Linked DNA regions of Homo sapiens. The protein of the gene in region 1 purifies or fractionates together with the protein of each later gene. This does not show direct contact. Each region holds a gene or a part of one and is shown on either strand. Other genes may lie near its edges.

Region 1 (4,497 bases):
GCGGTGGCGGAATGTGGATGGGGGCATGCTGCCCTTGCTGGCCTCAGCCCCCGTGCGGCTCGGCCTCAGGGACAGCGTTCCAGGCAGGTGCAGTTGGCCCCCTGCACAAATCCGCCTGCTAGTGCAGCATTGGCCAGCGTCAGGATGGCACCTGTCGGGAACTCTTTCCCGATGGCAAGGTTTGCAACTTCCCCGGGAACCAGCGCCCGATCCCAGATAGCCAAGCCAGACATGCTCCCCACGAAGGCCTCGGAGCTGTCGAATCCGCCCCCCACGCTGTCTTGTTCCTGGCCCAGCACGAGGGACCCTCCGGGGGGGATCTCATAGCCCTCCCTGAAGCGGGAGCCGGTGGCCACCAGCCTGCGATCCACGTGGAGCCAGTACCTGCCCTGGGTGGACGTCCAGATGACACAGATGTGGTGCCACTGGCCGTCCAGCAGCAGCTGCAAGGGCAGCTCCCTGAAGGCCGGGTCCCCGATCACGAAGTGGATGGATCCGGGCAGCAGGGAGTCTCGGCCGTGCAGCACCAGCTTGTTGTCATTGTCCTCGGTGGCGTAGGACAGGAGGGTGCCCAGGCGGCCGGAGGCCGTGCGGACCCAGCTGCAGAAGGACAGGGCTCGCAGGGCAGTGACGAAACCAGGGCTGAGGAAGACCACGTTCCTGGTGGAGGCGTTTGGGAAAACGAGGGTGGGGCCCACGCCGCAAACTAGAAACAGAGGAGGGAGGGTCAACCCCTTGCAGGAGGCCGAGCAGAAGCATCCAGAAGCACACGTGCTGTGGGTGCCTGGCCTCCCACTCCCGGCTGCCACCCTTCACGGAGCACTGACTCTGCGCTGGCCCTGCCGATGGCTCCCCTGCAGCGTCTCCTTCACTCTCTTGATGGGATCACCCCAGTTCCACAGGCGGGAAGACTGAACATGAGGGCCGTACTCGGGAGTGGCGGGGTCCTGCTAGGAGCCCTAGCTGTCGGCCCACCCAGCTGAGCCAGCGCCCCTCACTGCCAGGGAGTCTCTGCAAATTTCATGACTCACAACAGCGCAGGTTTAGTGTTTCACATTTCTGGCGGTCACAAGGCCAACACGGTCTCCCAGGGCTCAAATCAGGTGTGGACAGGGCTGGTTCCTCTGGAGGCTCCAGGAGAAACCATCTCCCGCCCTTTCCAGCTTCCAGAGGCGCCTGCACCCTTCGGCGTGGGGCCTCCTCGTCTGTGCATCCCGCCACCTCTGCTTCTGCCCTCACGCCCTCCTCTGACTGTGTTCCTCCTGCCTCCCCTTAGAAAGCCTCTGTGATGACGGTGGGCCACCCCCCCCGATGATCCGAGACCCTCTCCCCATCTCCCGGCCCCTAACTGAACCTCTTTTGAGAAGCCTTTTCCAGGGGGCCTGGTCTAAGGAGGAGCTGGAGGGAAGCCTGGCCGTGAGCTGGGAGCCTGTGGTACTTACTCTCTCCTGGCACCTGGGGGGACCATGCCTGCTGCCGAGGGTCTTTTGGGGCAGTCCCACTGAGTACCCGATGGCTGCCTGAGGCTGGAGGCTCCCGCCTCCCTTGGAGAGGGGCCGAGGAGTCCTGTGGGGGGCCCCTGTGCTCAGAGGCAGCTCGGAGCTCCTGCCTGTCCCTCTGAAGCTTCAGGGAGGTCGGGCCCAGCTCCTCAGGCTGGGTTGGGGTTGGGACCAGGGCCGGCCCGAGGGCTGCAGTGCCAGGGTGGGCCACGGGCAGCCGCCCCTCCAGAGCAGCCAGCCTGGCGCCCTGGCTGTGGACGAGGCCCTCCAGGCGTGCCAGTGAGTCCTGCAGGGCGTCCCTCTGGGCCTTGTGTGCCTTCCTTTCCCGGGCCCGCTGCTGGCTCCTCTCGCCCAGGGTGAGGTCCAAGGCCCGCAGCCGCGTGTCTACTTTCCGGCCTCGGCGCTGCAGCTTCCTCACCCAGGCCTTGAGCTGCGCCAGCTCCCCCTGCACCGAGGCCTGTGACCGGTTGACTGCCTGAGCCACAGCCTGGCTCTCTTCCGCCAGGCTCCGGAACCGGACGTCAACGTTGTAGGACACGTTGTAGTTGCTGGCGATGTTCTGCAGGTGTGTCCAGGTCACCTCCTGGAATCTCCGGAACTGTAAGGAGGACACGGTGATGATGGGGCGGGCCGGGCCGGGCCGGCTGGGCGGGACGGGAAAGGCTTTGCCCTCTCAAGTTGGGAGCAGCGGCCGCGTGCCCGGGCCACGGCCAGCACTGGCTATCTGCCCACCGATTTGATCCCCACTGCGATGCCGTGAGATGTGGTGGGTGCCAGGGACTGACCCCAGGCCATGCAGCTGCACCACGTGGGGTGTGGACTCCAGGCCCACAGCTGGGGCTCTGATCCCCACCGCTCACCCCATAACCACCGGCAAGTCACTTTCCCTCGTGATTCCAGCTCCTGCCTGTGAGCAGGGGACGGCAGGGTGGCCTCATGAGTGCTTTACGAGGCCCAAACAGGAAGCACCCAGCGCAGGCCCGACAGGCCCACAGCACTCCGGAACTGTCCGTGGACCCCGCGTGGGAGTCCGGGAGGCCGTTCACACCGACTGCCACAAGGTGGACCTGTGACCTCCCAGTTTCCACTCCCCATGACACTACCCGGCCCCCATGGCCCCCAGTTCCCCTGACTCCCTTCCAGACCCCCTTCTAGCCTCTGGCCCCACCTGACCCCCACATGTTATGAGGCTTGTGTCCTGTGTGAGTGGAGCCCAGCTCAGCTCTTCCCTGGTGTCCAACTGCAGGTGAAATAATCTTCATGGATGGAAAGAGCGTCACACGCGGTGTTCGTGTCCGCCAAGCCCTGATGTTTACCAATCTGCTTCTGTAACATCCGTCTTCCATCTGCTGCCAATTTAAAAACCCGACTGCGCCATGTCAGGGGTATAACTTGCCTGTTCCTCCAGCCTACGGAGCCTCTCGAAAAACGGTTTCCTGGGCCCCACTGGGGCGGCTTCCTGCGATGAAGCCCCATGTAGATATATAGGCACAAAAACAAGGAAGAAAGACAAGGTCTTCCTCCACGAGCAACCCATCCGGAGAGACGGCAAGGCCCCAGCAGTCTCCCTCCAGCCGCAGGAGAGGGTGAAGGTGGCTCCGTGGGTCTGTCTTGTGTCTCGTCCCCCCAGCTCTCCTGTTGAGTGGTTTTCCTTCTTTGGCCCTGGCTGGATGTCAGGTTCTTCCTGCCGCCTCCATGAAAGGCATCTGCCTTCAAGCCAGTGGGCTCTGAGACTTGCAGGTTCCTAAGGAGACAAGCTTAAAACAGATGCAAACAGTTTCTTTGAAGAATCATTCAGCTGGGTGCAAGCCCGCGGGCAGGAGGCGATGGCTTTAACAGGAGCACATGGACTTGTGCTCCCGAGAAGTCGAAGCAAGACAGGGAACCCGACGGGGGCTGGGGAGTCAACAGAGCCAGGTCTGCACAGGCACCCATCACCCAGGCCGTGCACGGCTGCATCCTGGGAGGCCCCGTCTCTCTCAGTAAAGCAATGGAAATGTGACTGGGAGCCACCTTAATTAATTAATTATTATTATTATTTGAGATGGAGTCTCGTTCTGTTGCCTAGGCTAGAGTGCAATGGCGCAATCTCAGCTCACTGCAACCTCTGCCTCCCCGGCTCAAGCGATTCTCCTTCCTCAGCCTCCTGCCTCCTGAGGAGCTGGGATTACAGGCGTGCTTTACCATGCCCGGCTAATTTTAGTATTTTTAGTAGAGATGGGGTTTCACTATGTTGGTCAGGCTGGTCTCAAACTTCTGACCTCATGATTTGCCTGCCTCAGCCTCCCTAAGTGTTCGGATTACAGGCATGAGCCACTGCGCCTGGCCAATTAATTAATTTTTTTGACGGAGTCTTGCTCTGTCACCCAGGCTGGAGTGCAGTGGTGCGATCTCCGCTCACCACAAGCTCCGCCTCCTGGGTTTAACGGATTCTCCTGTCTCAGCCTCCCAAGTAGCTGGGATTACAGGTATGTGCCCCCACATCCGGCTAATTTTTGTATTTTTAGTAGAGACGGGGTTTCACCATGTGGGCCAGGCTGGTCTCAAACTCCCGACCTCAGGTGATCCACCCGCTGTAGCCTCCCGAAATGCTGGGATTACAGGCATGAGCCACCGCGCCCGGCCAATTTTTGTATTTGTAGTAGAGACGGGGTTGCCCCATGTGGGCCAGGCTGGTATTTTTGGTTACAGGTTGTGTACTGGCTTGAATGAGACCCTCCTAAAAACACACATAAGCCCCAGGCAGGGCCTTATGTGGAAAAGGTCTCTGCGGATGTCATGAAGGATTTTGAGATGAGACCATCCTGGATTATCCAGGTGGCCCTAAAGCCAATGACAGGGGTACAAGAGACAGAGGAGGAGGCACAGAGGACACGGCCTGTGAAGATGGGGCAGAGACTGGGGTGACGCTGCCACGAGGAACCCCCAGAGGCCCCAGAAGCTGGAAGAGGTAAAGTGGGAACCCCCAGCCCAGAGCCTTCGAGGGAGTGTGCACCTT
Region 2 (3,805 bases), on another chromosome or scaffold:
CAGTGGTGAGGAGCAAATTTCAGAATGGAGGGGCCATCGCAGGGGCACAGCTGCAGGGGAGGGACAGGTCTGGTGGCTCAGGGCCAGCATCCTAGGTGGAGCACAGGAACAGGAGAAGCAACCTCCAGCCCTCCTCAGCCCTGCCTCTGGCCTGTCTACCCCGGGTCTCCCAACAAGTTTAATTTGTTGACGGTCACGTGGCTGGGAAGTGGGGGAGACGAGATTTGGTCTCAGGACATCTAAGGTCCAGAGCCCCTGCACTTTAATCACACCCCTCAACACAGAGGTGGAGCAGAGAGAGCCCTGAAGGCACTGGGCATGCAGCAGGTGCCTGGGAGCTGTTAGCCATCTTTCTGAAGTGTGCCCTGTCCACCCCACCCTTTTCGGTGTCCACCGACCTCCACCATGTCTGCCTTGCCCACCCTCAGGGTCCTCAGCCTACAGTCCTCCAGATGCCTTCAAGATCAGCATCCCCATCCGTAACAACTACATGTACGCCCGCGTGCGGAAGGCTCTGCCCGAGCTCTACGCATTCACCGCCTGCATGTGGCTGCGGTCCAGGTCCAGCGGCACCGGCCAGGGCACCCCCTTCTCCTACTCAGTGCCCGGGCAGGCCAACGAGATTGTACTGCTAGAGGCGGGCCATGAGCCCATGGAGCTGCTGATCAACGACAAGGTAGGCAGGGCTGGCAGGGAGGGCTGGCTGGGGGAGGGCCACCCTTCCAGAAGCACCCACTCCACACTGGGCTCTTTCATTCTCCTGCTCATTCTCCTGCTCTGCATATTCAGCACACATTAAGTACCTACCGTGTGCTAGGCTGGGCTCTGGGAATATAAAGACAAGCCAGACATGGAGCTGCCGGAAGAGAGGCTGTGTCCAATAGAGGCTCTAAGTGTTGTTCCATTTTACAGAGGAGGCAAGTGAAGCTCTTGGGGATCCAGTGACTTCCCCAGTGACCCAGCTATGGGACAGGGCTGAGGTGTCTGCCCCCAGGGCCCTGCTCATCATCCTGGACTTAAAGAGAAGGGAGGTGGCCGGGCGCACTGGCTCATGCCTGTAATCCCAGCACTTTGGGAGGCCGAGGCGGGCGGATCACGAGGTCAGGAGATTGAGACCATCCTGGCTAACATGGTGAAACCCCATCTCTACTAAAAATACAAAAAAATTAGCCGGGTGTGGTGGTGGGCACCTGTAGTCCCAGCTACTCGGGAGGCTGAGGCAGGAGAATGGCCAGAACCCGAGAGGCAGAGCTTGCAGTGAGCTAAGATCGCACCACTGCACTCCAGCCTGGGCGACAGAGGAAGACTCTGTGTCAAAAAAAAAAAAAAAAAAAAGAGAGAGAGAGAAGGGAGGTGCACAGACCTACCTGGGGATGGAGGGAGGAAGGGAGTGCTTGTGGCCTCCTCGTTCCTTCTACTTCCCTGGAGCCAGCCCCTCGGGCCCTCCCCGCTATGGAGAGTAGAAAGGTGTTGTGCTCAGGCTCTGGGACCCAAATGCTGGTTTGAGTCTTGGTTCTGCATCTTCACCATTGTGTGACCTCAGACTAGTCTTCTACTTGCCCTGTGCCTCAGTTTGCTTATCTCTAAAGCAGGAATGATAAGAACTCTTGTCTCTTAGGGTTGTAGTGAGAAGTGGCTTAAATGCATGTAGAGGGCTTTGAGCAGATCCTAGCGTTTAGCAGACATCAATAACTGTGAGCTATTTTTATTATACTGGGCACTGTGCTAATAAGCAGTTTACTCACATTATTACCCTTGACCTTCCCAACAGCACTGGGAAGTAGGTACCCTCATTATCCCCATTTTGCAGATGGAGAAACTGAGGCTCAGAGAGGGGAAGTAATGCACCCTGGCCACACAGCTGCTGGGGTGTGATGTGATTCAGGGTCTTGGGCTCCGGAAACCACCTTTTAACCCCTCCCCTGTTCTGCCCTTGGGCCACCCATCTTCCTCATGCCCAGGCCTCCCTCCCCGATGCCCCTCCTTCAGCCTGGCTGGAAGGCAGGACAAGGACAAGGCAGGGAGAATGATGTGGCAGGAGCATGGTAATTGAGGGGAGAGGAAGGGGAGCATCTCATCACTGTCATCCACTCCTAAAGCTCCTCCCCAACCTGCCACATTGTTTTGGGCCTTGCAGGCATGGTGGTCTATTGAGACCCCCCTGGAAATGCAGATACCACATATCGTACCCACCTGTGACCAGCCCACAACACATAAAGCCACTAGGAGTGATTGATACCCATCAGACCCAGCTTAGCAGAAGGTGCATTTCATGGCATTCTGGAGGGGGAGGAGGAGGAGGGAGGAGATGAGTCCAGGGACCAGTGACTTTCCCTTGTGGCCCAATAAACCCTACGACCACCGGGGTGGCTGGACTACATCTAGATCCTGCTGCCTTGTGCCCTTCATCACCCCCTGGCTGCCGTCCTTGGCCTGGCCCAAGTTCAGCACTCAGTTCTCATTAGAAGGAATTCAGCACCCTGGACAGGGCATTGGGCAGCCCTGTTCTGGGACGCTCTAGAGTCCTTTTGAGAGCCAGCCTAACAGACTGCTCACTGTTCCCTTTTTATTCCAGCCTCTAAGCCTTTACTCCTTCTGTGCCCACCACTTGTTTTGCCTAGCAATGGAATGGTGGATCCATTGTCCTTCCAGACGGGTTTTGACGTGGCTTCTGTTCCCATATCCCCTCTACCTCTGGGCCTCGCAGCCTCTGTACCTCCCATATGCCCTCCGTTATTTTGTCTTATAGCATTGCCCCAAAGTCCTTCCCCTCCTGCAGACTCAGCTCATTTAAGGCGTGGACCAGCTCCACATCCCCAGGATCCACAACAAGGCCAGGCACCACGTAGGCCTCAGAGAATGTTACATTAAATTGTGATCTCAGGCTGGGTAAGGTGGCTCTTGCCTGTAATCCCAGCACTCTGAGAGGCTGAGGTGGGTGGATCATCTGAGGTCAGGAGTTCAAGACCAGGCTGGCCAATATGGTGAAATCCCGCCGTTTCTACTAAAAATACAAAAAAAAAAAAAAAAAAATAGCTGGGCATGGTGGTGCACGCCTGTAATCCCAGCTACTTGGGAGGCTGAGGGAGGAGAATTGCTTGAACCAGGAGATGGAGGCTGTGGTGAGCTGAGATCACACCACTGCACTCTATCCTGGGCAACATAGTGAAATTCCATCTCAAAAAAAAAAATGTGACCTCAGGAAACTTACCAGATGAGGAAGCCCTTTGGGAGCACCAAATCCACAGACAGCAAGCACCTTTCATCTTACAGGCCAGCTCTAACCCATCAGCAGTGGCTTTCCAGAGCACTGTGCTGAGGGATCTGAGCTAAATCGAGGCTCGTGATTGATTGGCTATGTCTGCCCTGGGTGGAGGAAGATTTGCCATCCCTTGCAGACTTGTCATCCCTTGTCTGACCTCACTTTACAGATAAGGAAACTGAGGCCCAGGGAGGAAGGAGCAGCCTCCCCAGATCACACAGGGGTTGGTGGCAGAGCCAGGGCCAGATGCTGGAGCCTGGCCTCTGAGTCCAAGGCTCATTCTATCCCTGCCAGTACTTCTTGAGCCCTAGCTGTGTGCTGAGTGCTGTGTGAGGTGTTCAGGGGAAGTTGGGATTATGAGACATCCCTCTCTCCCCAAGTGACCTTAATAGGCCTGTTGGAGAGTGAGTGAACTACCTTGTGACAACTGAAAACCAAAACCAGAGAGTCCCTTGTGATCTGGTTTGGTCTTTGAGGAAAGAGGAGACAGGAGTCAGGGAAAGACACTGGGCAGGAGGATGGAGAGGGTCAGGCCTGGGGTCG

Evidence for each region.
Region 2: the proteins of PTX4 (region 1) and NPTXR purify together in Homo sapiens (affinity purification with mass spectrometry; one large-scale study listed by BioGRID and IntAct). This does not show direct contact.

Annotation. Positions count from the first base shown.
Region 1 is NC_000016.10:1,485,874-1,490,370, forward strand, and holds PTX4 (pentraxin-4 isoform 1 precursor), read right to left. Parts: upstream 3,072-4,497; 5' UTR 3,037-3,071; coding exon 2,896-3,036; intron 2,595-2,895; coding exon of another isoform or gene 2,469-2,594; intron 2,098-2,468; coding exon 1,443-2,097; intron 707-1,442; coding exon 66-706; 3' UTR 13-65; downstream 1-12.
Region 2 is NC_000022.11:38,823,371-38,827,175, reverse strand, and holds part of NPTXR (neuronal pentraxin receptor precursor), read left to right. Parts: intron 1-428; coding exon 429-676; intron 677-3,805. UniProt on the Homo sapiens protein: May be involved in mediating uptake of synaptic material during synapse remodeling or in mediating the synaptic clustering of AMPA glutamate receptors at a subset of excitatory synapses.